Homo sapiens: one gene and its partners. The protein of the gene in region 4 interacts with the protein of the main gene of each other region in a biochemical or structural test. Each region holds a gene or a part of one and is shown on either strand. Other genes may lie near its edges.

What was found.
Region 1: the proteins of ADORA2A (region 4) and NECAB2 form a complex in vitro, tested with the Homo sapiens proteins (one study listed by BioGRID and IntAct).
Region 2: the proteins of ADORA2A (region 4) and CYTH2 form a complex in vitro, tested with the Homo sapiens proteins (one study listed by BioGRID and IntAct).
Region 3: the proteins of ADORA2A (region 4) and USP4 form a complex in vitro, tested with the Homo sapiens proteins (one study listed by IntAct).

The regions. Positions count from the first base shown.
Region 1 is NC_000016.10:83,997,619-84,003,525, reverse strand, and holds the end of NECAB2 (N-terminal EF-hand calcium-binding protein 2), read right to left. Parts: intron 5,322-5,907; coding exon 5,209-5,321; intron 2,803-5,208; coding exon 2,725-2,802; intron 1,702-2,724; coding exon 1,610-1,701; intron 1,209-1,609; coding exon 1,180-1,208; 3' UTR 750-1,179; downstream 1-749. UniProt on the Homo sapiens protein: May act as a signaling scaffold protein that senses intracellular calcium.
Region 2 is NC_000019.10:48,478,735-48,484,054, reverse strand, and holds the end of CYTH2 (cytohesin-2), read right to left. Parts: intron 4,933-5,320; coding exon 4,845-4,932; 3' UTR 1,741-4,844; downstream 1-1,740. UniProt on the Homo sapiens protein: Acts as a guanine-nucleotide exchange factor (GEF). Promotes guanine-nucleotide exchange on ARF1, ARF3 and ARF6. Activates ARF factors through replacement of GDP with GTP.
Region 3 is NC_000003.12:49,335,180-49,344,316, forward strand, and holds the start of USP4 (ubiquitin carboxyl-terminal hydrolase 4), read right to left. Parts: upstream 4,875-9,137; 5' UTR 4,846-4,874; coding exon 4,745-4,845; intron 418-4,744; coding exon 290-417; intron 1-289.
Region 4 is NC_000022.11:24,422,955-24,431,871, forward strand, and holds the start of ADORA2A (adenosine receptor A2a), read left to right. Parts: upstream 1-4,644; 5' UTR 4,645-4,792; intron 4,793-6,251; exon of another isoform or gene 6,252-7,410; intron 7,411-7,942; exon of another isoform or gene 7,943-8,608; intron 8,609-8,917. UniProt on the Homo sapiens protein: Receptor for adenosine. The activity of this receptor is mediated by G proteins which activate adenylyl cyclase.

The DNA of each region.
Region 1 (5,907 bases), on a different chromosome or scaffold from region 4:
GGATGGATTCAAACTCTTGACCTCAGGTGTTCCACCAGCCTCGGCCTCCCAAAGTGCTGGGATGACAGCTTGAGCCACTGCACTGGGCTGTGAGTGACTTCTTTCCTGCTAACCCGGACTGAGAAATAGGAAGAAGTTACAAAGCTTCCAGAATAAGACTTAAGACATGATTTCCAGTTGATAGGCGGGGTCTCCTGCTGTGTTGAATGGCTAATGCACAGACGTGCCGGGAGGCATTCACCCGTCCCTGGAGCGTCCTGCCTGGTGACAGTGTCTGTGTTGAGCCACACTGCGTGGTCTGGGCCAACCATGTGATTTATGGTGGGGTGTTGAGCCATGAGGTGTCAGCGTGTATGCGTCACCGAACCCCAGTAAGACTCAGGACTGCATCCCTGATTGGTGATGCTCTATCAGCATTGAAGCTGGGAGGGTTCAGTGCTATGGGCCTTTACTGGTAGCCCCGTGCCTGGCCCCCCACTCCGGGAGCCTCTTTCTTTGCTGGATTTTGTCTGTCTGTCTGTCATCTACCTACCTTGACCGTGACTTTGACAGTTGTGCCCAGTCCTTTGAATTACTGACCTGAGGGTAGGTGTGGTGCTGAGCTCCTGAATAGGCATGAGCCTAGTTCCCAAATACCGCATAGAGTGACCACCACCATTTCATGGTTCAGAAAACTGAGGCTGGGAGCACTTGAAGGGTCCCTGGCCCCCTGCTGTTGTCAACCAGGAAACAGACACAGAGCACACAGCTCTTCCCAACCAGGGTTTATTTGGCGCCTGGGCACAGTGGTGGCTACCTGGCTAGGTTGGGCACTACAGGGGCATGACTCCTACTAGGTAGAAGAATGTCACCGAAGAGGGCAGGGTGTGGTCAGTGTGGGTCATGCGTGGCCATGTGAGGGGTAGGGGAGAGGCCAGGACCAGGAGGCAGGGGTGCTGGCTCCAGGAAGCCGCCCCCTTCAACCTTGGGCTTCACCAGGACCTGGCAGCACAGACACTGCTCTGCCTTCTCAGGTGGGGGCAGGGGCGGCCTCCTTCACTTAACAACAGGGAAACACCTTCTTGTGGAGGATGGATTGAAAAGAAGCTTCTGCACCAAAGTGTCTGTCTAGAAAAAAACGGGATTTCCTTCACAAGAAGAAGGGGCTGGTGGGCTCCTCCACGGGCCTCTGGGAGGCTGTCAGTCCCGTCCCACCGTGCACCAAGCAGCTAAAAGGAGAGAGACACGTTAGAGGGAAGGAGTGCGAATGTGGGCAGCCTCGTAGCTGGTGGTGGTCGTCTTGAATGACAGGTCGGGGGATGGCTTTGAGTCCTTGTGTGACACACAGGTCCTTGCTGGTCACCCAGGTGCAAACCACACACCTGGGAAGGGAAATTCAGTCTGGCTGGAAGTAGGGGGCCGTGGAGGGGGTGCTCTGGTGCAAGCTCTGGCAGGCATACCTGTATGTGGGGCCACCTCAGGGCTGGCTCTGAGCCTGGCATTGGTGGCAGGAGCTGACAGTGGGCCCACAGCAAGCAGGCAAGTCCCCGGGAGATATGGGGCAGCCTCTAGGCTCTTGCCCTTCTCTCCAGTCAGGTGGCCACTGCAGTTCCAGGCCTTTGCCCCCTACCTGGCACCAAGATCCTGGAGAGGGCCTCAGGCTGGCTCAGTGTGTCCACCTTGACGTGCCGGAACGCCTTACACAGGGGGCTCTGCAGGTGCCTGTGACGCAGGGACATGTGTGAGTCAGGGGTGGCAGGAGTGGAGCTCCGCGTGTGGCTCCCCTGTTAATCCTAGCTCTAGCCCAAAATGGGGAGCTTATCAATAAGCACGGGGGGTCTTTGGACTCAGAGCCTTTGTGGGAAGGTGAGGGGGTGCCCAGGGAGGCTGACTCTGGGGTGGGCAGTGAGCTTCTCTTTTTCCCTGTGAGCTATAAATGGGCAGCGGGATCCCCCCACTCATTGCACAGAGCCTCTACCTCCCCCTTTACCCTAGCAGGAGGAGTGGGGCCATCCTCTGCCTGGGACCCATGACAACACAGAAGCTGCGAAGGCTTTTAGTCCCTCGTTTTATGAGTCACTGAAGTACGGACAGGGAGGGGACACTCTCACTTCTCATGACCGCCCCTGTTCCCACTGGGGTCCTGAGTTTGTCAGCAAACCGTGAGTGTTTACCAGGGAAGCAGGAGATGGGGGCATGGGCTACCCCTAGGCCCCGCTTCCTGCCTGTGGGGTCTGGCGCATCAGCAATAGTCTCCACCCTCTCCCAGATGTGTGCTGAGCAGAGGACAAAGGCCTAAGGCCCATCAGAGCTGCTGACACCCTACCCCATCTCCGTCCCTCGTACCGGGCACTCAGCTGGAGGGGAGGTTAGTCGCTGGAACAATTGATCACATGGGGACTGAGTCACCTTCTAGGTTAGGCCCTCAACTCTACAGGGTGGTAAAGAAGGCAGTGCCTCGGCCCCCAGGGCTGTTCCAGGAGGACAAGGTGCTCTAGGGGCACAGAAGCAACCCTGGGGAAAGCAGGAAAGCCCAGCTGAGTGTGGTGGGGGCTCTCACTACCCACCAAGAGCTCCTGCCTCCACCAGGGTTTACTGACGCAAGCATGCCAGCGGGTAGATGCCTCGGGAATCTGCTGACTGGACTCGGCCTTACCCTCCCCTCCAAGGATGCCTGGCTCCAGGAAGACAGCCCCCCCACTTCCCTCTGTCTCCCTCACCTGCTGTGGGGACCCAGCATCTCACCTCTTCCACGCCTCCTCTGTCTCCCAGAACTCATAGATGACAAAGGTGAAGCCATCTGAGAGCCTCACGGCAGTGATGCTGCAACAGGAGATGGTCGGGGGGAGGAGGCTGGAGCTCAACCAAGGCCACCTCAGTGCTGTTCCCCTGGGGTGGCCTGAGACCCACCACTATACACAACGGCTGCCTTCAATGTTTCTTCCTGTCTTGACCTCCATCGAGACTCGACAGGGTGACCCCAGCACAGGGAATAAGGCCTGGCTTCTTATAGTGGCCAACAGCTATTTATTAAATAGAATCAATGCAGTGTAGTTTTTCTTTTGAGATAGGGTCTCACTCTGTTGCCCAGGCTGGAGTGCAGTGGCACAATCACTTCAGCCTTCCAAGTAGCGGGGACTAGAGGAGTGCACCACTCGGCCTAATTCAAAAACTGTCCCAATAGAGATGGGGTCTTGCTATGTTCCCCATGCTGGTCTTTAACTCCTGGGCTCAGGCTGTCTTCTCACCTTGGCTTCCCAAAGTGCCAGGATTGCAAACTTCAGCCACTGTGCCCAGCTGAAATGTCATGTTAAAGTGTGAACATTTATTTAAACAAAACCAGGTGGCTGGATGTGATGGTTCACGCCTGTAATCGCAGAACTTTGGGAAGTCTTGAGGGGTCGAGGCAGGTGGATTACGTGAGGTCAGGAGTTCAAGACCAGCCTAGCCAACATGGCAAAACACTGTCTCTTTAAAAAAAAAAAAAATAAAACTTGCTGGGCCTGGTGGCACATCCCTGTAATCCCAGCGATGCAGGACACTGAGGCATGAGACTCATTTAAACCCTCTGGTGAGAGGTTGCAGTGAGCTGAGCTTCCACTACTACACACTCACTCCTGCCTGGACAATAAAGCAAGATTTGGTCTCAAAAAACCTTTAAAAATCAAAAAACCTTTAAAAATCAAAGCATCTTCCCTCTTCTTCCTTCTACTTGTCCTCTCATTTAATCCTTGCAACACCCCCACTGCACTGTACCTGACCTGACCAAAGGAGGCTGAGGGGAGGGGGTGCTGGGCCACAGAGGAAGGGGCTGCAGGCAAGTCCCCCATTGCTCTATGGGACCCAGGGGCCCGCACTCACGTCATTTTAAAGGTGCTGATAGTCTATGCCGCCCCAGAATCCTCTCTGCAAGTGCACTACAATGAGGAAGCCCCAAGTGACCATAAAGCGGGGGCCAAAAGCTGGGGAGGAGGGGCTACAGTGCTCAGCCTAGAGGAAGGGGCCGGGCTGGATTCCATCTTGGGGTGGACACACCTCCGTGCAGCTTTAGGTGCACCATGCCTGGGAAGTAGAATCTCACCTGGCTCTCCAGGCTTGCCGTCTCCAACTCGACAAACCAGAGCCTCTACGTCCACCGTGCCTCCTCTCCACAGCGCATCGGGGTGGCCCTACTTCACCCTGGAGCCTCCCACTTATTCACGTAATGGAAAAAGATCAAGTCTGGCCCCTGCTCCTGTGCAGTCTGTCCTCCTGGAGTGGAGTGGGTCCTGCCCCCCCATCCTGGCTACTTACTCAAGAATGGCCCCTCGTGGCCACGCCGAGTCTCGGGAACGGCCGCACTCCTGCCCAGGCTACTCCTCCCCTCGTGCTACAGGTCAGGCTGTTGTCACTCAAGCCTCAGTGCACAGGGGGCCCAAGAAGACCCCTCTCAAAGACCCTGTGCTAGGACCTGGCCTGCCTGGTTCACAGCCATGTCCCCAGGCAATGGGGTGAATGAGTGTGTGCTCTGGGGATGGAAGAAAGCCCTGGGAAGGGAGTTGGGCAGAGCCTTGCTGCAGAAACGGGGGGCGGGGGACCACTACCAGCAAGAACAAAGGGCTGTTGTCTTCTGCAACCCCCTCCACTCTGGCCCTGGCCACATGCCTTAGCTTTACCAAGGAGCTACATCAGCCTGGTGGGATGAACAGGAATTTGAAGGTAAGGCCGCTTGCCCCGCCCTGGACATCTCAGCACATCAGGGGGAGAAGGGCAACTACATGACTTGGGCATTTCCCTTCAGCTACCGACTCTCCTCTCCTTCCTCAGTGGTTAACTGAGCAAATACTACATTCTGGGCCTGGACTTAAGTGTGCAGGAACCCCTGTGACAGCAGCAGCTGAGGCTGACTGAGCGCACGGGGCACACCAGGCCCAGCTGGAGCCCTTCACACTTGAGATTCACACACTTGATTGTATATGCACTCATGATCACCCCAGCAAGGAGTCCTGGGGGTGGTCCCCCCTTTACAGATGAGTAAGCTGATGCCAGGGAGATGAAGACACCTGCCACATTTGCTTGGCTGGGAGGAACCTCAGTAGAGACCTGAACCCACTTCTTACGCATCCAGCTGTGTGTGTCCCTGGGGTGCAACTTGTACTACTTAGGGCAAAGCCTAGTCCTGCCCTGTTCCTCCACTGCCAGGCAGAGCTCCCTGCCACCATCCCACCCACGCCTCGGCAGCTCACTCACTGGAAGCAGTTCCTCACGCCAGTGGTCCCCCGCAGATACTGGCGCAGAGAGTCCAGAAACTCGCTCAGTTGCTCGGGGCACACGGCCATCTCCTGCCGGACCAGCTGCAGGTGCTGCCGGGCACAGCAGGAGTCAGTGTGGGGCTCCACGTCAGGCCTTCTCCCTAAACACCCCATCAGGCCCCCATGACCTCCCTTCCTCGGTCAAAATAAAATAACCCTCCCCCACTTTTCATTCTTACCCATGAATGGATAAGAATGGACTAAAAATGGGCTAAGAAAGGACTAGAACCTCAAGAGCCCAGTGCAGAAGTAGCCCCCAAAAATGGGGAAAACAGACGAGGTTGTTTACAGAGGCCCCATCCATGTCCACAACCACCTGCACAGCCTCCAGGGCCTGGAGACACAGCACATCCACTGACAAGAAAAACTCATAGTTGATGGACTCAGCATTTTCACATCACTGTCTGGCTGATCACTTTGCTCTATGCCAAACCTTTTTTGGATCAAAGTCCAGGAGCCTCTGGGCCAGGTGTGGTGGCTCACGCCTGTAATCTCAGCACTTTAGGAGGCCAAGGTGGGCAGATCATGAGGATAGGAGTTTGAGACCAGCCTGACCAACATGGTGAAACCCTGTCCGTCTCTACTAAAAATACCAAAAAAATTAGCCAGGCGTGGTGGCACACACCTGTAATCCCAG
Region 2 (5,320 bases), on a different chromosome or scaffold from region 4:
CAAAGTGTTGGGATTACAGGCGTGAGCCACCACGCCAGGCTGTCTCTATTTCTTGTTCTCGGTTTCTCCCGGATTCTGTTTTGACTCTGTCTTTTTCCCTCTGACCGGGTTTGTCTTTGTGGCTCTGATCTCTTGGCCTTGACCTGTCCCCCATCACCTTGGTACCAGGTTCACTGGTGTATTTGCGGGATGTAGTCTGGATGCGGGGAGAGGGAAGGAGCAAGGGGTGGGAACCCAGCCCCTTCCCTCTGTTAGGGAGGCTGTAGTGTAGACTCTGGCCTCGGAGTTAAGGTGATGGCGGCATTAGGGTCACATGTGAGTCCTGGGGGATTGGGGAAAGGGAGAGAGAGGATAAGGTTTTAGCTTCTTCCCAATAAGTCCTGCTGGGAGACTTGGTGGTGCTTGAAGTGATCCTGAGACACCTGCCACAGGGTGGGTGGGTGCTGCATGAACCAAGGCAGCGGGGGGAAGGTGAGAGCTGGACTTTCTGGGTCTGAGGGAGGAAGGGCTGGTGACTGGGGGCAGGACTTCTGGGTCTGAGGGAGGAGGGGGCTGGGCCTGAACTCCTGGATCTGAGGGAGGAGGGGCTGGGGGCCTGGACTCCTGGGCCTTAGGGAGGAAAGACCAGGGCCTAGACTCCTGGGTCTGAGGGAGGAGGGGCTGGGGGCCTGGACTCCTGGGTCTCAGGGAGGAGGGGCTGGGGGCCTGGACTCCCGGGTGTGAGGGAGGAGGGGCTGAAGCCTGGACTCCCGGGTCTGAGGGAGGAGGGGCTGGGGGCCTGGACTCCCGGGTCTGAGGGAGGAGGGGCTGGGGGCCTGGACTCCCGGGTCTGAGGGAGGAGGGGCTGGGGGCCTGGACTCCCGGGTCTGAGGGAGGAGGGGCTGGGGGCCTGGACTCCCGGGTCTGAGGGAGGAGGGGCTGGGGGCCTGGACTCCCGGGTCTGAGGGAGGAGGGGATGGGGGCCTGGACTCCCGGGTCTGAGGGAGGAGGGGATGGGGGCCTGGACTCCCGGGTCTGAGGGAGGAGGGGATGGGGGTCTGGACTCCTGGGTCTCAAGGAGGAGGAGATGGGGGCCTGGACTCCTGGGTCTGAGGGAGGAGGGGATGGGGGCCTGGACTCCTGGGTCTGAGGGAGGAGGGGATGGGGGTCTGGACTCCTGGGTCTCAGGGAGGAGGAGATGGGGGCCTGGACTCCTGGGTCTGAGGGAGGAGGGGATGGGGGCCTGGACTCCTGGGTCTGAGGGAGGAAGGGCTGGGGCCTGGACTTCTGGGTCTGAGGGAGGAGGGGCCGGGGTCCCCAACTCCTGGGTCTGAGGGAAGAAGGGGCTGGGCCTGGACTCCTGGGTCTGAGGGAGGAGTGGTTAGTTATCTAGGGCTGACATAACAAAGTACCTCAAAATTAGTGGCTTAAATCACAAAAACTGAAGGTCTCCCAGTGCTGGAGGTCAGAAGTCTGAGATGAGGGTGTCAGCCCTGGCTGCTCCTGAGGCTGTGAGGGAGGATGAGTCCCCGGTCTCTGGCTTCTGAGGGTGTGCCGGCAGCTTTGGTTTTCCTCGGTTTGTAGAGGCGTCACCCCAATCTCTGCCTTCACCTCCACATGGTGTCATTTCTGTGTGTCTGGGTCTCTGTACAAACTTTTATAAGACACACATCCTATTGGATTAGGGCCCACATGAATGACCTCATCTGAACTAATTATATCTGCAATGACCTTATTTCCTAATCAGATCACATTCTGAGATGCTGGGGGTTAGGATTTTAATATAAAGTTTTTTGTGGGGGTGGGGGAGACACAATTTGATCCGTGCTGAGTCCATTTTGTGTTGCTCTGACAGAAGACCTGAGGCTGGGTCTTTATAAAGGAAGAGGTTGATTTGGCTCAGATTCTGATGGCTGGAAGGTTCAAGACTGGGCAGGTGCACTCACTGAGGACCTCCCTCATCCCTGAGGCTGCTGCTGCTTCTGGGGGAGGGCAGAAGGATGCAGCTGTGTGCACAGAGATCACATGGTGCTGAAGGAAGCAAGGGAGAGAAAACCAAATTCCCAAATTCCCAAGGGTGAGCACTCACTCACCCCTTAAGGCAGGCATTAATCTATCCATGAGGACTCCACCTCCAAGACCACACAGCTCCTTATGAGGCCCCACATCCCAACACCTGCCACACTGGGGCTCGAATCTCAACATGAATTTTAGTGAGGACAAACGATATCCAAACCATTGCCACCCAAAAGAAGTGGGCTGAGGCCTGGCGCGGTGGCTCACACCTGTAATCCCAGCACTTTGGGAGGCTGAGACAGATGGATCGCCTGAGGTCAGGAGTTCGAGACCAGCTTGGCCAATATGGTGAAACCCCGTCTCTACTAAAAATACAAAAATTAGCTGGGTACGGTGGCTCACATCTGTAATCCCAGCTACTCGGGAAGCTGAGGCAGGGGAATCGCTTGCACCTGGGAGGTGGAGGTTGCAGTAAGCCGAGATGGCGCCATTGCACTCCAGTCTAGGGCACAAAGTGAGACTCCCTCTCAAAAACAAAACAAAACAAAACAAAAAACAAAAAAAAAAACCTACAAAAAAAATCAGAAGCGTGCTGGGAGCTTGGGGGTCCTGGGCGAGGAGGGAGCCGGACGCAAAATCCTCAGGTCCTGGGGGAAGATGGACTGTGGGCAATGCTGAAGGTCAGTGTGACGTGATGCAGCCTGGCTGGAATGTTCCACAGGCATCTCCAGCTTAATTTGGTCAAAACGGAATGCCTGATTTCCCCTTAAATACTCCCTTTCGACCACCTCAGTCATGGCACCGTCATTCACCAGCTGCGGCGGCTCTCAGCAAGTCCTTTTGGCTCCTCTTTCAAGACTCCTAGCGTGGCCCAACGTTCTCCACCTCCACAGCCACGCCATCCTGCACCGCACAGCTTCCTCTCACCTCCCCGCTCGCCTCCAAATTATTCTCCCTGAAGCAGCCAGGGGCCCCTCCTGCAACCTCAATCCAAACACGTCAGGCCCCTGCCTCCTGCCCTTGCACGGCTTCCATCTGCTAAGAATCCAGCCAGAGGCCCTCCTGGGGCGGCCCAGGCCCCACGCGACCGGCCGCCTGCCTCTGCCCTCCCCTCCCGCCGCACTCCCCTCTTCGCCACCAGCGGGCTCCGCGCCTCTTCCTGCCTCTGCCTGCCACGGAGCCGGCCGCCCTGCATGCAGTTCATCCGGGGAGGCGGCAGGAAAGGGTGACATAGTGGCGGGACCCGCTGTTTACCCTGGGACCTCATCTCCCACGACCTTCTTGGGTCGATGACTCCGTTTCCCTGGCACCTGTGGGAAAGAGAAGTGGGGAATTCTATTTTCTCATTTGGAACTCCATTTCCCACCAGCCCCCGGGGCCGCGGCGGTCAAAGCCTCCTCTACCCTCCACAAAAGTACGGGATCTGACTAAGAAAAAGAAGACAAACGCCGCCACGGAGTCTCGGGAAACTGCGACGCCCGGAAAAACCTCGGGTCTGGGTCACCGTGGCTTTGGCGCCGCACAGCCTGCCGATAACTGTAGTCCACCTTCCCGCGGAGGGGCGCAGGGTACCCCCACCGCGGGGGCCTTCAGGCCGGCAGGTGCCTGTGGCCAAGGGCGGGACAGGGATCAAAGCCCGAAATTCCGAAGCGCCGCATCCCATCGGAGAGCTCAAAAGCGAACACAGCGGGCAGGAGGGACTACAACTCGCGGCACGCCTCGGGGCCACAGGCGCCTCTCCCACCCGCGTCCCGGTCCCTGCTGGGACTTGTAGTTTGTTAACTAAAGAGCGCCTCAGCTTCAAAGGCGGGCATGGGAGAGTGACATGGGACCTCCCAATCCGCCATCGCACCCTGCTCGGGATCCACGAGCCCTTGTTCTTTGGGGACACCACACATACCCCAACTGGAGGGCAAAAGGTCACAGACCTTAGCCCAGGATTCAGGGGTACCCCACATGCCAAGACTTCACCTTCATAGAGGCGATCCTCGAATTTCTTTGGCTGTCAAGAATCCCAGGAAAGACGTTCAGAACGCAGGTCCTCAGCCCTATCCTTGACACAAAATGTCCTCCAAAGGAGGCTGATCCTTTGAGAACAGACAAGCCTGGCTCTGGCACTGGCCCACAGTCCTGCCCTCTTAGCCCGATCTAAGGCTGCCCAGCCCTTCAGGACATCCCATCAGCAAGGCCCTTGCAGGACATGGGCCACCTCCCCACTCATCCTTCCCTGACCCTCCCTGAGGTGGTCGCATGTTCTTCCAGCTCCAGGTTGTCCTCAAAGCCCTGGCCCAGCTCACAACCTCACCAGCTTCATCTCCTGCCCCTCAAAGACCTCAAGCCCCATGAAAGCAACGATGGGAACTAGCTGATGGCTGTAGCGTAACTGGCTGATGGCTGTCAAGTAACTTCTAGAATGAATGCTAGACCTTGACCCTGAATCCCTGCATTCTAAACTCTGTCCCCGGCCAATTCCAACTCCAGACTCCCACCATATTAACCTTCTCCCTTTACTCCACTCCTGCTGGGCTCGGGGTGAAACCAGAACAGACCCACCGGGACAGCCCAGGCAGCACCCAGAGACAGGCGGGTCCAGGCCCCTGTCCAGGGAAACAGGCTGGCTCCACGGAGCACCTCGACTCTGTCAACCCCAAGAAATGAGGGGGTCAGCAGGCCAAGTGGTTAAATAATTAATAAGATTACCAACAGCGTGTTAATTACAAAGAACAGTGAGGAGCTAGAGGTGGTGAATTTTCCAAACAGGGAACCAGGATCCACAGCCCCAAGGCCCAGGGGTCCGGCCACCCAGGCGGGGCAGCTCCGTAATAAATAATGGAGTTGGGGGCAGGGGGTCAGGGCTGCTCCTGCTTCTTCTTGACTGAAATCCGCTTCTTTCTCGCTGCCAGCATCTCATAGAAGGGGTCCACACTCACAGCCGCCCTGCAGAAGGGGAGGGGTCCCAGGATGAGGGCCAAGGAGTCCAGGCCTCCAGCCCCTCCTCCCTCATACCCAGGAGGAGTCTCAGACCCCCGGCCCCTCCTCCCTCAGACCCAGGAGTCCAGGCCCCCGGCCCCTCCTCCCTCAGACCCAGCAGTCCAGGCCCCCGGCCCCTCCTCCCTCAGACCCAGGAGTCCAGGCCCCCGGCCCCTCCTCCCTCACACCCAGGAGTCCAGGCCCCCGGCCCCTCCTCCGTCAGACCCAGGAGTCCAGGCCCCCGGCCCCTCCTCCGTCAGACCCAGGGGTCCAGGCCCCCGGCCCCTCCTCCGTCAGACCCAGGTGTCCAGGCCCCTGCCCCTCCTCCGTCAGACCCAGGAGTCCAGGCCCCAGC
Region 3 (9,137 bases), on a different chromosome or scaffold from region 4:
ATTCCATATACTAACTTAAAATGTGAAATAGCTAGCAGAACTAATTTGCAAAGAGAGAAAGTTAAAATGTTAGAAGCATACTCTTATCAGATGCAGTTAATTTAAGGGAAAAAAGTAGCTTAACTTCTCATTAAGGGTTTGCAAAGACTTCTGCTATAGATGCAAAATGAGGATACTTGTTTCTATCTCCTCACACTAGGAAAGTTCACAACGTCCATGTTACAGATGCACATAACATCAGGCCACTGCCCAGGTGAATGTTTAGCTAGAAAAGCAACATTTACTATACCTGAAAATAGCCCAGAGTTGTCTATTGGGCCAGGAAATAGGTTATGTTCACCCACATTGTACATGTCCCAGCTGTCAAAGCCCACATACTTCTTCCACTGCTTGAACCACCGGCTGTCAATAAGATACCTAGAGAGAGACAGAAATTTACTGTAGCAGAAAAGCTGAGATTATAAATTTCTGCAGCTGCTTCCTTAATCTTTTTTATGGTCCTTCCACTTGGGGCATATGCAATACCCACTAAAAAACACTGTCACAAGAGCAAGAGCAGGGCCCAGGCCCCACATGGCACAGAGAGTCTGGCCCAGGGTATGCATCCATTAAGTGAAATGATTGTTCAAAGAGTGAATAAAAGAAAGAAAACAAGTGGTTTCAAAATGCTTATTTAAATGCAGTCTTTCTTTTTTTTTCTTTTAGACGGAGTCTTGTTCTGTCGCCCAGGCTGGAGTATAGTGACACAATCTTGGCTCACTGCAACCTCTGCCTCCCAGGTTCAAGCGATTCTCCTGCCTCAGCCTCCTGACTAACTGGGATTACAGGCACCTGTCACCACTCCCAGCTAATTTTTGTATTTTTAGTAGAGACGGGGTTTCACCATGTTGGGCAGGCTGGTCTCAAACTCCTGACCTCAGGTGATCCGCCTACTTCGGCCTCCCAAAGTGCTGGGATTACAGGCATGAGCCACTGCACCTGGCCTCTTTTTTTTTTTTTTTTTTTTTTGAGACGGAGTTTTCGCTCTTGTTGCCCAAGCTGGAGTGCAGTGGTATGATCTTGGCTCACTACAACCTCCACCTCCTGGGTTCAAGCAATTCTCCTGCCTCAGCCTCCCAAGTAGCTGGGATTACAGGCATGCATCACCAGGCCCAGCTAATTTTTTTGTATTTTTAGTAGAGATGGAGTTTCACCATGTTGGCCAGGCTGGTCTCGAACTCCTGATCTCAGGTGATCCTCCTGCCTTGGCCTCCCAAAGTGCTGTGATTACATGCATGAGCTACCACACTCAGTCTAAATGGAGTCTTTTCATGGGTAAAATCATGTTTGCTAATAAACAAGTCATTAACTTCTTTTTTTTTTGAGACAGAGTTTCGCTCTTGTTACCCAGGCTGGAGTGCAATGGTGTGATCTCGGCTCTCCGCAACCTCCGCCTCCCGGGTTCAAGTGATTCTCCTGCCTCAGTCTCCCGTAGCTGGGATTACAGGTGTGTGCCACCACACCTGGCTAATTTTGTATTTTTAGTAGAGACAGGGTTTCTCCATGTTGGTCAGGACAGTCTCAAACTCCCTACCTCAGGTAATCTGCCCACCTCGGCCTCCCAAAGTGCTGTGATTACAGGCGTGAGCCACCGCACCCGGCCACAAGTCATTAATTTCATAATGATCTTTACAGAAGTCCCACTCCAGGCAGACAGTTTGGTTACACTGTTTTGCTTGACATGAACAGCACTAAACTAATGCTCTTTCTGAAAATGGGTTAGAAACACCACCCACTTCAGTTTTCCTTTAAGGACCAAAGGAGTTCCAAAAATGTACACACAAGGCCAGGCGCAGTGGCTCACACCTGTAATCCCAGCACTTTGAGAGGCCGAGGTGGATGGTCACTTGAGCTCAGGAGTTCAAGACCAGCCTGGGCAACAAACCCCATCTCTACTAAAATTACAAAAATTAGCTGAGCGTGGTGGCACATGCCTGTAGTCCCAGCTGCTCGGGAGGCTGAGGCACAAGAATCACTTGCACCCGGAAGACAGAAGTTGCAGTGAGCTGAGATCATGCCATTGCACTCTAGCCTGGGTGACAGGAATAAAACCCTGTCAAAAAAAAAAAAGTACATAACATGCGTGTACATATATAAATATACACATACACATGTACATATAATAGTGCCTATTGTTCATCTTGTCAAAAAGCATTAATTTGTGCTTCATATTCAACTTACCACTTTTTTACTTAAATGTAAGCAAATGTGGTATTTTATTTACCTATTTATTTCCTTAGAGAGAGGGTCACCCAGGCTAGAGTGCAGTGGCACAATCATAGCTCTCTGTAGCCTCAAACTCCTGGGCTCAAGTGATCCTCCTGCCTCAGCCTCTGAGTAGCTGTGACTATAGGCACATACCACCATGCCTGGCTAATTTATTTTTTTATTTTTATTTTGTAGAGGCTAGCTCTTGCTATGTTGCCCAGGCTGGTCTTGAACTCCTGGCCTCAAGTGATCCTCCTGCCTCAGCTTCCCAAAGTGCTGGGATTACAGGCATGAGCCACTGCACCAGACCTGTTTATATTTTTAAAGTATCACTGTGCTGGCCGGGAGCGGTGGCTCACGCCTGTAATCCCAGCACTTTGGGAGGCTGAGTCAGGTGGATCACGAGGTCAGGAGATCGAGACCATCCTGGCCAACATGGTGAAACCCTGTCTCTACTAAAAATACAAACATTAGCGGGGCATGGTGGTGCATGCCTATAATCCCAGCTACTCGGGAGGCTGAAGCAGGAGAATCGCTTGAACCCGGGAGGCAGAGATTGCAGTGAGCCGAGATCGCGCCACTGCACTCCAGCCTGGTGATGCAGCGAGACTTCGTCTCAAAAAAAAAAAAAAAAAAAAAAAAAAAAAGTATCTCTATGCTGTTTTACAATTAAAACAATCTCTGTGGAGCAACAAAGCATCAACAATTATATTGGTGCATCCTTAAAATTTTATAACCAACAAATGTGAGAGGAGGTCAGGCAGCTTCCCAGAGGTCACAAGGATCCATAAACACATCCATCTCTAAAATGCTATTTTTCTTCCAAATCCCTTGAGCAATACCTTCCATACAATTTTACTGTATGATTTTAGTCTATCTTAAACTTCCTCTACTTCTGCTGAGTATTCTTTATGAACCCTATAGAGGTTAACTTAAAAAGTACCTCTGCTAGGCCGGGCGCAGTAGCTTCCGCCTGTAATCCCAGCACTTTGGGAGGCCACAGCGGGCGATCACCTGAGATCTGGAATTCGAGACCAGCCTGACCAAAATGGAGAAACCCCGTCTCTACTAAAAATACAAAAAAAATTAGCCGGCCGTGGTGGCGCATGCCTGTAATCCTAGCTACTGGGGAGGCTGAGGCAGGAGAATCGCTTGAACATGGGAGGGGGAGGTTGCCGTGACCCGAGATCGCGCCATTGCCCTCCAGCATGGGCAACAAGAGCGAAATTCCTTCTCAAAAAAAAAAAAAAAAAGAAAAGAAAAGAAAAGAAAACACAAAAAAAGTACCTCTGTTTACCCTGCCTTTCACAAACTGGTTAGCTCAAGGTGAATACATAAGCTGTTATCTGTACTCCTCCTAACCCCAATTTTTCTATTCTCCTGCTCAATTCCTCGGCAGATCATCACCACAATGATTTCTTAAAGATAGGTAACACTCGGGCCGAGCACGGTGGCTCCCACCTGTAATCCCAGCACTTTGGGAGGCCGAGGCGGGTGGATCATAAGGTCAAGAGTTTGAGACCAGCCTACCCAACATGGTGAAACCCGGTCTCTACTAAAAATACAAAAAATTAGCTGGGTGTGGTGGCGTGAGCCTGTAATCCCAGCTACTCGGGAGGCTGAGGCAGGAGAATCGCTTGAACCCGGGAGGCGGAGGTTGCCGTGAGCCAAGATCACGCCACTGCACTCCAGCTTGGGCAACAAGAGTGAAACTCCATCTCAAAACAAAACAAAACAAACAAGATGGGTAACAATCATACTCGATGCAAAGTCTAGCCTTAGTTTTTCTACTCCTACACAATTACACCACCCAGGAATCTCTCCAGTAGTACAAAGTATTGTCCCCTCTACTAAACAATCTATTAAGATGCCTAATAACTCAGCCTGGGTCTTCTAAATTCTGGACCCTTCATCTTCTATCTAGCTCCAGGACCTAGGCTATCCTCCTCTCCCACTCCAAGACACTGCTGCCGCAAATATTTTTGACACTTGCTACCAAAATAATCGGGGTTCTCAGACATTTGTTCAGCTTCTGACCTTGACATCTGTTGGCAGTTTACAAGTTACAAAGTATCTACTTCTGATTTTCCCCTCAACCCACTGAGGTCGGTGAGCCAAATATTGCTATCCTGGTTTTAACAGTGAGGAATCCAGGTCTGTGACACCTTCGCCCAAGGTCACACGGCGAGTCCTCATGGTAAAGGGCTCTCCCCACCCTTAGGGTCCCCACCAACCTTCCCCTTCTCCACATCCCTCCTCCTGGCCCCCGCCGGGCCCGCCCCCTAGGGCTCCAAATGAACTGAGACGACACTCAGGCCCCGCCTGCGCTTTCCCAGAGCTGATCCTGGAGTTATTCTCCTGAGGGGCAGGTGTCAGGCTACTCTTCCAGGGTCACTACATACCATCCCCGCCCAGCCCCTACTCTAGCCGAGAAAAAGGAGGCCCCTTTTTCTCGGCCCCTGGTTCTGCATAGAGGAAGAGCGAGCCGGGAGCTCACCACTGCGCCCCGCGTTGGAGTGTGGTCCTCATTAAGGGTCCAAGCTCGGACTTCTGAGTCTCCGCATCCGGTCGCTCACGGCAGCCTCCACCTTCCGCCATCTCCTCCGCGGCCCCGGCCCAGCCGGCCCGGACATCCGCCCCGCGCGCGGCGTGCTATAGACCGCGCCCACGCACGCACGCTCGCGTGCCCGCCCCTGCCCCACCTCGAGCCGCGGCCTTCGGCTCCTGCAGCCGCTGTCTTTTCTCCCCTCCGCTCTCGCGCCACCTAGCTCACCGGCGAACAGTGGAGCGGAAAGGCACACGCGAGAGGGGTGGGCGGGGAGCAGCAGCTGCTACTTCCTCCCGCCCTGCCGCCCGCTACGCGGCCTTCGGGCGCCCCTTCCTCTGCTCAGGATGGCGCTACACTTCGAAGCTCTGTTCAGCCCGCCGATCTCAGGGAGTTAGGCAGCAAGCCCACGACCCATCGGGCACCCCAGCCTGGCCTTCGAGGTTATCGTGGTCCTAAATAAATGCAGGCCAGGTGCGAGAAGCCCGGTAGTTAGGTCTGCTCATTCTCACCCCTGCAATTCCGCTTTCAGCTGGAGGCCTTAGGCGAGTCAGCTGCCCAAACGTGGGATCGGGGCTCCTGCTCCAGCGGCCCTACAGGGATTTCGGGAAGTACCATGTGCACCAGCGCCTTGGGACCAAGACTCAATGGTGTGTTGTAGTCATTAACAGTCGCCTTAAACAGTCGACGCCAGAGCCACCTGGCCCACCGCAGAATTCCGTCAGCTCTTCATACTGAGCTACTTGCCAAGCAGCCACAGAGGGGCGATAGCAACAGGGGAAGGAGAGGTACTCCACATTAGTTACCCAGGCGTGTACTTAGTTCCTGGAACAAGATACAACGTCCTGAACACTATGTTTTCCAGTCGCCCCGCTCACACACACAACCCTCCTCTTGGAGGGAGAAGTAAACCCAGAGGAAAGAGGAAGTCAGGCAGTTGGTCTAGATGCGTCTCCATACACTTGTCTAACAGTCCTTGTCCTCAGAGAAAAATAAGACCTAGTTCCTGCCCTCATAGAATCTAGTAGAAAAGAAGAGATGTTACAGAAATAACCTCAATGCCTAGCAGTATGTGGTAAGTGCCATTAAAGTGTGTGAACCAGGCCGGGCGCGGTGGTTCAAGCCTGTCGTCCCAGCACTTTGGGAGGCTGAGGCGGAAGGATAGGTTCAGCCCAGGAGTTAGAGACCAACCTCGGCAACATAGCGAAATCCCGTCTCTACAAAAAAATACAAAAAATAGCCGGGCAGTGGCTCGCGTCTGTGGTCCCAGGTACTTGGGAGGCTGAGGTAGGAAGATCCCTTGAGCCCAGGAGGTCGAGGTTGCAGTGAGTCGAGATGGCGCCACTGCACTTGAGACTGGACGGCAAAGTGAGACCCTGTCTCAAAAAAAAAAAAATAAATACAAATAAAGGGTGTGAACCGGCCGGGCGCGGTGGCTCACACCTGTAATCCCAGCACTTTGGGAGGCCGAGGCAGGAGGATCACCTGAGGTCGGGCATTCGAGACCAGCCTGACCAACGTGGAGACCGAAATGTCTTAAAAAAAAAAAAAAAAAAAGACCGGGCGTCCGGCGCGGTGGTTCATGTTTGTAATCCTAGGACTTTGGGAGGCCGAGGCGGGCAGATCACGAGGTTAGGAGTTCGAGACCAGCGTGGCTAATATGGTGAAACCCCTTCTCTACTAAAAATACAAAAAAAAAAAAAAAAATTAGCCGTTAGTGGTGGCCCACACCTAGTCTCAGCTACTCGGGAGGCTAAGGCAGAAGAATCGCTTGAACCTGGGAGGCAGAGGTTGCAGTGAGCCGAGATTGCGCCACTGCACTCCAGCCTGGGCAACAGAGCAAGACCCCCTCTAAAAAAAAAAGGGGGTGTGAACCAAAGGCTGTAGAACGCCAGGCACAACCCCTGCTCTCATAGGAAGCCTTTGACTTGAGTAACATTTGAGTGTGGTATTGAAAAAAAATGCTGGCAGAATAAAGATGAGGATGCATGTTACAGGAGGGGAGACTCAAGGGACCAGAAGATAATTTCTGGAAAAGGCAGGACAGGATCAGAGAGTGGGGATTAGGCCAGTTGAGGCGGGCACTACAACGCTACAACAGCCTAAGGGGATCTAAAGCTAGAAAGGAGGCCAGACAGACCATATATCCTGCCTTAAAAGGCAGGCAGGCATTATAGGAAGTTTTGAAGCAGAGACAAAATGGCTGAGGGTGCTTCACGCCCACGGTGGTGTAACTCAGACACAGAACCATTAGGAACCTCTCACTATGGAGGTGGCTGTGAGGGAGAAGAGGAGAAACAGAGAAGCCATGTCTATTTTATTTTATTATTCTTATTTTTCTACCTATTCCTGTTGAAAAGATGAGCTATGTTTTGTGTCGGGGGTGAAGGAAGGGGAACTGGCCCAGTGAAAATACGGTAGGTCATTTGAACAGATTTACTATTTTTATGTTGGGTTTGGCCAATTGAAATTAATTTGCACTCCCTGGGTCATCCATCACACACCATCTGATAAGAAAGGCCTCTTGGCAATTGGGTAGATAGTAGGAGAAAGTAAATATGGAATTAAAACTGCCTTAAATAACCACATAGTAATTAATCCCCTGTAGATAAGAGTTACCACCACCACATGATGATTCTACATCTGCAGAGCCAACCCTAACAAGTCCCCTTCTATGAAAGTTCTTTGAAACTCGTTTTTGTTTTGTTTTGTTTTGTTGTTTTTTCTGAGATGGAGTCTTGCTGGGTCCCCCAGGCTGGAGTGCAGTGGGGCAATCTCAGCTCACTGCAACCTCTGCCTCCCTGGATCAAGCGATTCTCCTGCCTCAGCCTCCTGAGTAGCTAGAATTACAGGTGTGCGCCACCACGCCTGGCTAATTTTTGTATTTTTAGTAGAGATGGGGTTTCACCATGTTGGGCAGGCTGGTCTCAAACTCCTGACCTCATGATCCACTGGCCTCAGCCTCCCAAAGTGCTGGGATTAAAGGTGTGAGGCACCGTGCCCGGCTGAAACTCTTAAAAATGTTATCAAAAAAGAAACACTACCTTTAGTCCTGTTATTTATGGAAAAAGAAAGTTGAGGCCAGGCGTGGTGGCTCACGCCTGTAATCCCAGCACTTTGGCTTTGGAAAGCCAAGGCAGGCGGATCGCCTGAGGTCAGGAGTTCGAGACCAGCCTGGCCAATGTGGTGAAACCCTGTCTCTACTAAAAATGCAAAAATTAATTGGGCATGGTGGCGAGCACCTGTAATCCCAGCTACTCAGGAGGCTAAGGTAGGAGAATCACTTGAAACTGGGAGATGGAGGTAGCAGTGAGTCAAGATCGCACTACTGCACTCCAGGCTGGGTGACAGAGAGAGACTCTGTCTCAAAAAAAAAAAAAAGTTGGTTACTGACATCGGTTCAGAATCTACATTTCAGGGTGTCTGCTTCCCTCTTCTTTTTTTAGCAGTTTCACCAAACCATTTATGGCAGTCTTAAGGAAGACAAGTAGGACAAGTCCTCAGCACCACTAGAAAAGGGGACAAAACCTAATTATAAAAATGAAAAATTTGGACAATATTTTTAAGTCAGGAATTTAGTGCTTTTAATAGCTATAAAAATAGCGCACTAATTATTGGTAGCCCTTAAAAATTAATATTAGGATTGCAAAATATTCTTCTTGATATCTGGGTATTTGGAGGGAAAAAAAGAAAAATAAATAAATAAAAGATTACAAAATGCTGGTAGTTGAAATGTGAAGAATAAAGTGAATTCCATAGTTGGAAGATCACCTTTTTTTTTTTTTTTTTTTTTTTTGAGACAGAGTCTTTGTTGCCCAGGCTAAAGTGCAGTGGTATAATCATGGCTCACTTGCAGCCTCGACCTATTGGGCTCAAGTGATCCTCCTACCTCAGCCTCCCAAATAGCTGGGACTACTGGTCTGCATCACCATGCCTAGCTAACCAGACTACTGGTCTGCATCACCATACCTAGCTAATTTTCATATTTTTAGTATAGATGGAGTTTCACCATGTTGCCCAGGCTGGTCTTGAACTCCTGGCCTCAAGTGATCCTCCGCCTCCCAAGTGCTGGGATTGCAGTCATGCGCCACCGTGCCCGGACTACAAGGTCACCATTATTTACAAAGTCTTTAAACTTTGTTAGCCAGTTTGTTTGATTTAAATGGTGGGGGTGGCCGGGCGCAGTGGCTCATGCCTGTAATCCCAGCACTTTAGGAGGCCAAGGCAGTCGGATCAGGAGGTCAGGAGTTCGAGACCAGCCTGACCAACATGGCGAAACCCCATCTCTACTAAAAATACAAAAATTATCTGGGCGTGGTGGCATGGGCCTGTAATCCCAGCTACT
Region 4 (8,917 bases):
TAGCTCTGTCCCCCAGGCTGCAGTGCAGTGGCGTGATCTCAGCTCACTGCAACCTCCGCCTCCCGGGTTCAAGCGATTCTCCTGCCTCAGCCTCCCGAGTAGCTGGGACTACAGGCGCATGCCACCACGCCCGGCTAAATTTTGTACTTTTTTAGTAGAGACAGGGTTTTACCTTGTTAGCCAGGATGGTCTCAATCTCCTGACCTCGTGGTCCGCCCACCTCCGCCTCCCAAAGTGCTGGGATTACAGGCGTGAGCCACCGCGCCCGGCCGGCAATGGGGGCTTCTTAAAAAAGAGGGAGGCTGGGCCCGGTGGTTCACGCCTGTAATCCCAGCACTTTGGGAGGCCGAGGCGGGCGGATCACGAGGTCAGGAGTTCGAGACCAGCCTGACCAACATGGTGAAACACCGTCTCTACTAAAAAATACAAAAGTTAGCCGGGCGTGGTGGCGGGCGCCTGTAATCCCAGCTACTCGGGAGGCTGAGGCAGGAGAATCGCTTGAACCCGGGAGGTGGAGGTTGCAGTGAGCCGAGATCGCGCCACTGCACTCCAGCCTGGGCGAAAGACCAAGAGTCCGTCTCAAAAAAAGAAAAGAGGGAGTGTGGGGGTGGGGCCCGGAGCGCTCCAAGGGGCGGGGAAGGGGACTCCCAGGCCCGAGGACTCCTGGAAGGGAGGTGAGTGTGGCGCTGAGGAAGCGGCGGGACGGATGCGAGCCCGGGAGGAGCGCGCTGGGGGGCCGCAGGCGGGGGATGTGGCGCGGTCCAGGCCCGTCGCGGCCTCGTCCTGACAGGGACACCTGCGGGATCGTCCTTCCAGGATCGCCTGCGGGCCTCGCGGGCCGATGCCTCGGGTCCCCCTCCGGCCTCGGTTTCTCCGCGCAGCGGGGCGGGGCGGGGGCAGCGCGGGTCTCAAAGCTGCCTGCAGGGGGCGCCCGTGAGCGGCGCGGCCGGAGCCGGAGACCCAGCGGCCGCCGAGACAGCGGGAGCCGGCGTGCGAGCGGCAGGTCAGCCGGGGTGCTAGGTCTGGCGTGCGGGGTCCTGGGTGCCGGGTCCGGGGTGCGGGGTGCCGGGGGTCCGGGGCTGGTGGCCGGGCGGCGTGGGGCCGTCGGGGGTGCGGGGCCGGGAGGACTGGGAGGCTGGGGTTCTGCTCCCCTCAGGGTTCCTTTCCCGCCGCCCCGAGACCAGTTCCCCGGCGCGGGGTCCGAGTCCTGCCCCGCGGCGGCTGCCGGCACTGCCTGTGAAGGGCCCAGGCACAGTCACGTCCCAGGCGCAGTTGCGGCGCCGCGTGCGGGACCCTCCGAGCTGTCCCAAACTGCACCGGAAGGCGCGCAGGGGTAGGCGGGGAGGGAAGGCAAGTGCGGCGGCCGGCGCGGCGCGGGGTGCGGAGCCGCAGGTAGCGGGCGGGGAGCGTCCGTCCGTCAGTCCGTCCGTCCGTCCATGCGCCGCAGACCGGCCCCGCGCGCTCGCATGAACCTTCGCGAGCTCCTCCAGCAGGGATGGACCGGGGGCGCAGAGGCGCTTCCTGAGGGGTGGCGGGCCGGGCCCCGGGGCGAGGGAGATTCCCCAGGTGGAGGAGCCGGGCGGAGACCGGTTCCCCGGGAAGGTGAGGCGCGGGCAGAGATACCCGAGCGCCCGGGACGCGCCGAGAAAGGGGGAATCAGGAACGCTGGGCCGAGCGCTGGCGTCTTCCGTGGACAGTGGTGGCGGGAACTGGGTTTGGGGGACCCAGGAGACGACGGGGGACGGATGGGGGTGGGTGCGCGCCTCGGACTGGCCCCGGCCGTCTGTCTGGCTGCCCGGAGCGGAGGTAGGAATGGCGGGAATGGTGGCGGCTCTCGAGGGATTTGGCGCAAGGCGGCCCAAGGGCTTGAGGAGGAGGCCGCGGGCCGGCAGAGCTGAGGTCCCTGTGTCCCGCACTCAGACTTTAGTTGCCCCGACTGTACCATGGGAGGAAGAGGGAGACCCAGGGCTGGGTCCTAGGCTGGGGGAGTCGGGGCCCTGCAAAGACGCGCAGGTGTTTGTGGCCCTTGTTGGAGGGTGAGCCGCAGGTCAAGCCAGCCCTCCGTCGCCATCCTGAAGCACCTCCTCTCTTGGGCTCTGCCACACACAGGGCCTTCTCCCCTATTGCCAGGTGCTCAGGCCGCCTCCACCCTGCCTCTGCTGCCGGCTCCCCCTGGGTTCCCCGGCGGGGCACCCTGCCGATACTCCATGACGCGCCAGGGCTGCCCCAGGGTGCCCCAGCCCTGGGGACCATGGTGGAGGGTTCTGTGGAGCACCGCGGGCCTGGGAAGCTGTTGCGGGGTCGGGGCTTCCTCACTGGCCCTGCTTTGGCCGTTCCTGGAGGCCTTGGGTGGGGCTGGGAAGGCCGGGCCCTGTGGGCAGCACCCCCCCCCCCCCCGCCCAACATCCCGGCAGATCCATGGCAGGGGCGCCTCACAGGCTGGTCCACGGCCACGGTGTCAGTCCCTCCTTGTTCTGCGCTTGCTTTTTGGGGTCTCCCAGCCTCTCCCTAGTCCTAGAGTTTCTCAGGCAAATCCCAGCCACTACCCCTCCATCCGTGTCCCCTGTTTCCCCAGTGCTGAGCTGGCTGAGCTGTGAGCTTTCCTGCTCCTTGCCTCAGGAAGCCAGGGGCAGCCCAGTCACCTCTGGCCAGAGGCGGGCCTTAGGCCAAGGCTGACCTGGCTGGTCTGAGAGCTGTGCTGGGCTTCTTCCCATATCAGTCTGTGAATTACAGATCCCCAAATATGCCCTGCGTCGCGATGGAGGAGGGCAATCAATGGCAATGACTGCCTCATGGGCAACGCGATGTGCTGGAGATTTCAGTGCTCTCGTCTGGGTTCTGGTCTTGCCTCCTCGACCCACTCGCTGAGCAGGTTGCTGTCCCGGGGAATCTGATATCTCATCTGTAGAACAAGGATGATGATCTTAGCAATGCCTAATGTGGAAAGGCCTTGGCTTGGGAGCAAGTGGGGGAAGGTTTAGGGCAGACCAGAGGGCCGGTGAGGGGTGTGTGCTGGAGCGGGGAACCCGGGAGGGAGGGTGTTAGGCTTGAGGGTCAGGGGACACCACAGGGATTGCTGTTGGCAGAGGGACATATGAATGGTAGTTGGCCTGGGAGCCAGCATGTGACTTGAGAGCATCACGTCCTGCAAAGTCCAGGTGAGGCCTGGGCAGTGCCTGCTGTGTGGGACCACAGCCCCTGGTGGCTCTCAGCTGTGTCCTGACACTCCAAAGAAGGTCTTAGTACCCTCTCACAGACCTAATACCCGAGCCACCTAACCCCAAATGAGCTAGAACTGCCTTCCCAACCGTGTTTGCGGGGTCTGTCTTGTCTATTGCAGCGCAAACAGAGCCCTGAGCACGCAGGAGAGCAGAGGAAGGACAGACAGAAGATGGATGGATGGATGAAGGCGGGAAGCACAGGCTGAGGGGATTTAGGGCATGTGTGGTGGGGGTGCTGTGGAGAGGAGACTGCACAGGCAGGAGCTGAGCTGGTGAATGGGAGGGTTCTAGCTCCCAGAAGGGTCTGGGCCATTGACAGGAGGGGCTTGGTCCTAGGAGGTGGGTGGTCCAGAGGTTGCAAGGAGCAGAGGAGCCCAGATGGGGAAGGGAATGGAGCTGGGGTGCAGAGAGGAGCCCCCACACAACTGCCCACATCCTGTGCAGAACCTGGGGCTCTGGGTGGTGGGAAGAGGCAGTTTCATGGCGGAGGAGGCCTGGGCCCCTGCAGCCTGGACTCCATGGATCTGGCCAGGGACTGGGGAGGATCAGGTGGAGAGAGGAGCAGCAGAGCAGCTGCCCCTCGTCCCAGCACAGGGGATGATGGGAGCCCAGGGAAGGCAGGACCCTGGCTTCGGGCATTTTCTCTGCTAGAATCTCTCGATACCTCTCTCCCTTCACCTTCTCCTCCAAGTCTCACCCAGATGATGTTTCTGTGAGTTGCCATGGGGATTCTCTCACCACCCCCCGCCAACACCCCGCAGGGGAAGCTTGTTCCAGGAGTCACTGGGCAGGGGCTGCTGCTGCTCTTCTGTGCCCACTCCTCGGATGTGCCGCTGCAGCCCTGGTCTCTGGCATCGGCCGTCACCTGGTGGAGAGGCTGCCGGAGCTGGCCAAGCAGAGGGAGGCCGATGGTGCCACTTGGTGTCTCCTCTGGCATCTGGGCAGGAGACTTCTCCCCAGAGGCCCCGGGCTGGTCTGCCCGTGTCACAGGAGGACTCGCCTCTGGTCCCTCAGTGGCCTCTGCAAACCCTGAGCCAGCCTGGGGGAGGCTGCTCAGTGGGGAAGAAGCAGTGGCCAGGCTCTGCTTGGTCACCCTGCCCTCCTGTCAGCCTCCGGGGCTGCCTCGTCGCACCTGCCCAGGGACCCAACAGCCGGTCCTCACCCCTCCCATCCTCATTGCAGCCACCCTGGGGCATTGTGAGGCCCTGCACCCAGCACTGCCCCTTCAAGCCTCCCACAGGGTCCCGCCCAGGACTCCTGGGCTCTGTGTCCGCGGGGCCATCTAGAAACACTCCCTTGTCCCCCCTTCAGCGGCATAGTACCTGTTGCCCGCCATCTGAGGGAGGTGCAGGTGCCAATCCTTCACGTGACGTGACGTGGCTCACCACAGCCTGTGTACATGTGAGCAGCCGCGTGCAGAGGGGAAGCTCTGCCTGGGCCTCAGGGACTGTGACATGGAGCAGGAGCCGCCCCCAGCCAAGCTGCTTTCAGCACAGCGTGGGCCCCCAGCACCTTGGTGCGGGGTGCGGCCCCTCGGAGGAGGGCTGTCAGGTGAAGCCTCGTGTGAGGGGGTGAGTGGCCCCCAGGCGGGGAGGAGGGGGTGCTGTGGCCTTCCTGGCCCCTAGCCTGGACACATGGGGGTGTGGGGAGCAGGAGCTGGGGCCCCCAGCACTGGCCCCGGGGCTGCGATGTGGGGGCTGCTCTGTGAGGCAGGCTCAGAGCCTTAGCCTCCAGCTGCAGGGAGCTGGGTCTTGGCCCCATCTTGCCCACATCCTGCCACCAGGAGCAGAGAGCTGCAGCTGCACCCGGGCTGTGGGGGAGGGATGCCAGGTGTATCTCTGGGTCCCGGGCCCAGCCTGCACCCAGCGCCTGAAGTAAGGGCCACCGGGCAGCCCCGGAGGTCAGGAGGGAAGTGGAGCCCGTGCTGGGTGGCTGCTTACCACTGGGCAGTGAGGAAGGCACCTGCGCTGATGAGTTTGGAAGGGGTATGGGGATCCTGGGGCCCTGGGTTCTGGGAGGTTCATGCCCAGGCCCCCCTGGGCCATCCCAAAAGCCAGTCATAGTGGGGCCCACAACCTGCCGTGCCCTGCCGAGCTCCCGCAAGCCACTTGTTGATGCTTCTCAGTCCACCCCATGCCTCTCAACCGTTTCCTCCTAGACTAGGTCTCTTCATGGCGTTTCTGGGAGAATTCCTCAGTACTAGCTTCAGATCCCCAGTCGTCTCTTCCACTGTACGTGTGCCTGAAGCTCACCACATCCCTTACTTCAGTCCTTCTATTTTTCAGTCCCTGGATTTTGTATTATTTCTTGTTCATATCCACCTGTCCTTGTTTCATTTCCGCCAGTCGGTTCAGAAGTTCTCATTCTTGTCTACGGATGCCATTCCTTTCTTTGCCTCTTTGGAGATTCTAAAGGTCTCTGAAATCATTATTAGATTACTGTATTACCTTCCTTCCTACTGGAATGAATTCACCTCCATGTTTTTTATTCTGTTGCTTACCTTTCTTAGCCTTCATATACCTCTTGCGCTTTGAAATTGATTTGCGACTCCTCTTAGCTGAGCCAATGTTGTGGAGACAGGGAGTGGCCTGCAGTGCCTGAAACTGCAGGGCAGCAGCCGCCTCCCAGGAATGTCCTGGGTCCTTTCCTCCTTTGAGGTCCCCTGCCATATGCTCAGATGGGGCCAGGCACAGCAACGGGGGCACACCTCCCTTTGGCCCAGCAGTTGGGGTGCTGCCAGGCCTGGTGGAGGTACTTGGTAAACATTTGTTATGGAAAAGCAGCAGGAGGGTTCTAAGGCTGGGATTCTGGAGCCCAGGAACAGGCCAGGCATGGCTGGAGCGGGTCCGAGTCCGTGCACTGTGTCCTGTATGTTGCTCTTAGCCGCACTCAGGAGCAGATGTGCAGGTCACTGCCTAGAAGCTGGTGGGCACCTCCGTGCAGCAGGCTCTGGGGGGTATAGCCACCATCTGGGCATGTGTACAGAGGGCCTTGCTAGTGCGACATATGAGGAACCAGAAGATGTGTGGGTTTTGATTAAATGGAGTTTTAATTAAAGTGGCCAGGTTGGGGGAGGTGAGGAGGAAGGCAGGAAGCAGCAGCAGTTTTGAGTCTGACCGCGTGGAATCCTATAAGGTGGTTCTTTCAAGAGGCATTATGCACATTCCGCAGCATGTGTCCCCTGTCTGTATGGGGCAGCATCTGCCCTCTGATCTGTCCCCAACAAGGGGTAATCACAGAGAAGTATTACATTATTAATATTTAATTTCCCCTCCTGGTTAGCAACAGATGACTCAAGGAGTAATTAGATGCACAGAGCCAACAGAGAGGGATAGGAAATTGCCAGATCCTGGCCCCGCCCCCTCCCCGGGGCCTCTGACCTTCCTGTCACTCTGGGAGGCTTCTGAGGGAGGGGAGCTGGAGGCCCAGGAGCCTTCCTGCTGCTGTGCTCTCTGTGCGCACGGCCGCAGCCCTACACCACCTTCCAGTGCTCTTGGTGAGGCTGAGAGAGGTCGCTTCGTGCCTTTGGGCCTCAGTTTCCTCATCTGTAAAATGGGCTTCCTGGGACCAGCAAGATCACAGATGACAGTCATTTCCCAAGCTCCTAAGCAGGCTGCACAAGCTGTGTCTGAGGGTCCAGTGCAGTGCCTGGCCTCTAGGCAGGTGCCCCCTGGGACGCGTAAGGTTTGGCAGCTCAGCAGTGACTGGCATCGTGGCCAGCTGACTCTGTGTTGCTCCCCAGTTACGGTCCACGACACATTAGTAGCTTGAAACTGGGCACAAGGGGAGAATTTACACCACAGAAATCAGGCAAAGCCTGTAAGTCAGGGTGCCCCCGGCCAGGAGCTGATTTGCCAGCCTACGGCTGGGTAGCTCCCAACCTTTCCCCAATGAATGCACTCCTCTTCCCCTGTCTGCCCCAAAGGTGCCTCTGACTCCACTGATCTGCTTTGCTCAGGGCCGAGAAAGGCACAGCTGAGAGTGGATTCTGGCTTGGCAGGGGCCCAGGTTGCCTGTGGGTCCGGGCAAGCCTCACCCGGGATGTGCTGGCAGCAGCTGGGAGAGCCTGCAGGAGTGCTTAAGGAGGGGCTGAGGGAGAGGACGGGCAGCGAGGTGGCCTGTGTGGACCCTGCTGGCAGGAGCCGTGGGTGTCTTTAGCCCCGTGTGAGGCCGGCCTGGGCAGAGGGGTCTGTTGCTGTCACTGAGGCTGGTGGGCAGCAGGAAGGTGGCTTCAGTATAGTCAAGAAGGTTATCGGTATCTAGTGCTGTTTAGCATGGGGACCCACAGCACAGAAGGTGGGGAGACCCTGAGAACGGGGGTACACAGGCAGGTACCCAGGGCTGCCAGGGAAGCCTTGCCAAACAGAGGCCCTGGTCAGGCTTCTCCCAAACTGGGCATCCCAGCTGGCATGGCACCAGTCCAGCCCGTGAGGCAGGCGCCGATGATTTGACCCCACCAGCAGGGCTCTGGGTGATGGGACTGGGGAGTCCTCCTTCACTTTGGCAGACGTGTTATGTTCCACCTTGTTTGCCCCCAGCAAGGCCCTTGAATCTGGAGCGTGGTCTGGGGCTGCATCAGCCTTCTAGCCTGGGATGGTCAGATTGGCAGAAGGCTGTGGCATCCTTCAATGCAGATGCCCTAGAGAGGGCCGTGGTGGGAGGCAGGATCCCTGGGTAGAGGCGGCTCCTCAGTGGCCCACTGGGCCTCACTGGACAGTCGCCTGTTGCTGCTGCTGGTGGTGCTGGGCCTGGGAGTCCACCTTGGAGCCACAGGCCAGGCACCTGGGTGGGAGGCAGCCCGGGGCCAGCACCAGCTCCACTTGTACCTGTTGGGCAGGGGCTATCGTGAGTCAGGTGGGCCCTGGTGAGTACTGCTCAGGGAGAGAGGCCAAGAGCATCAGGGATAACTGTGTTCCTTGAGTGTGGCCAGGGATGGTGCCAGGAGAGCTGGTCTGGTGCATCCCTGCCAACGACACACTTTGTGAATGGCTGCCTGGCAAGTGCTCCATGGAAAGCAGGGGCTTGGGAGGACTCGGCCCTCTCCAGCTGCTGCAGGCCCTCCGTTGCTGCAGGGTTTCTGGCTCTGCTCTCTCCTTCCTCCTCCTGCTTCTGTGTCAATGCTCCATTCCCAGGCTCCTAGTAGGGGCAAAAGGGCCTGCTGGGTGCAGGAGAACCTCCAGTCCCAGGTATGGCTGCAGCCCGTGCCAATCCTGTTCCAGCCACTTGAGGTGCCGACAGCATTGGAGTTGGAGGGAAAGTTGGGGTCTGTGTGTTTGAGCTCTGTCACATGGACAATGGGGTAGAGGGGAGCCTGGCCCTTTGAACAGGGCTCAGGACCAGGAGTGACTTCCTCTCCAGGTTGCCAGTCCTGCTCCATCCCTCATGTCCTGGAAGAGAGAGAGAGACGAGGTGGCTGCCCGAGTCCACGTGAAAGGCAGCCTCTGACCTCTTGTCCCCAGGCAGGTGGTGGCGGCTGGCAACACACTCATAGGGCCCCATGAGGGTTCAGGATTGGAGGGGGTAGATTTGGGGGCCTCTTAGCTCTCAAAGAGGGGCAATTTAACGGGCAGAGGTCCATTTGGATCCAGACCATTCACAGGCTCGAAGGGGACACTGGGAGTTGGGGCTGGGCTCAGGCCTGCTGGGGAACCAAAACTTCTGCTTCTGAGGGGTGTCAGTAATTCCATTTTGACTCT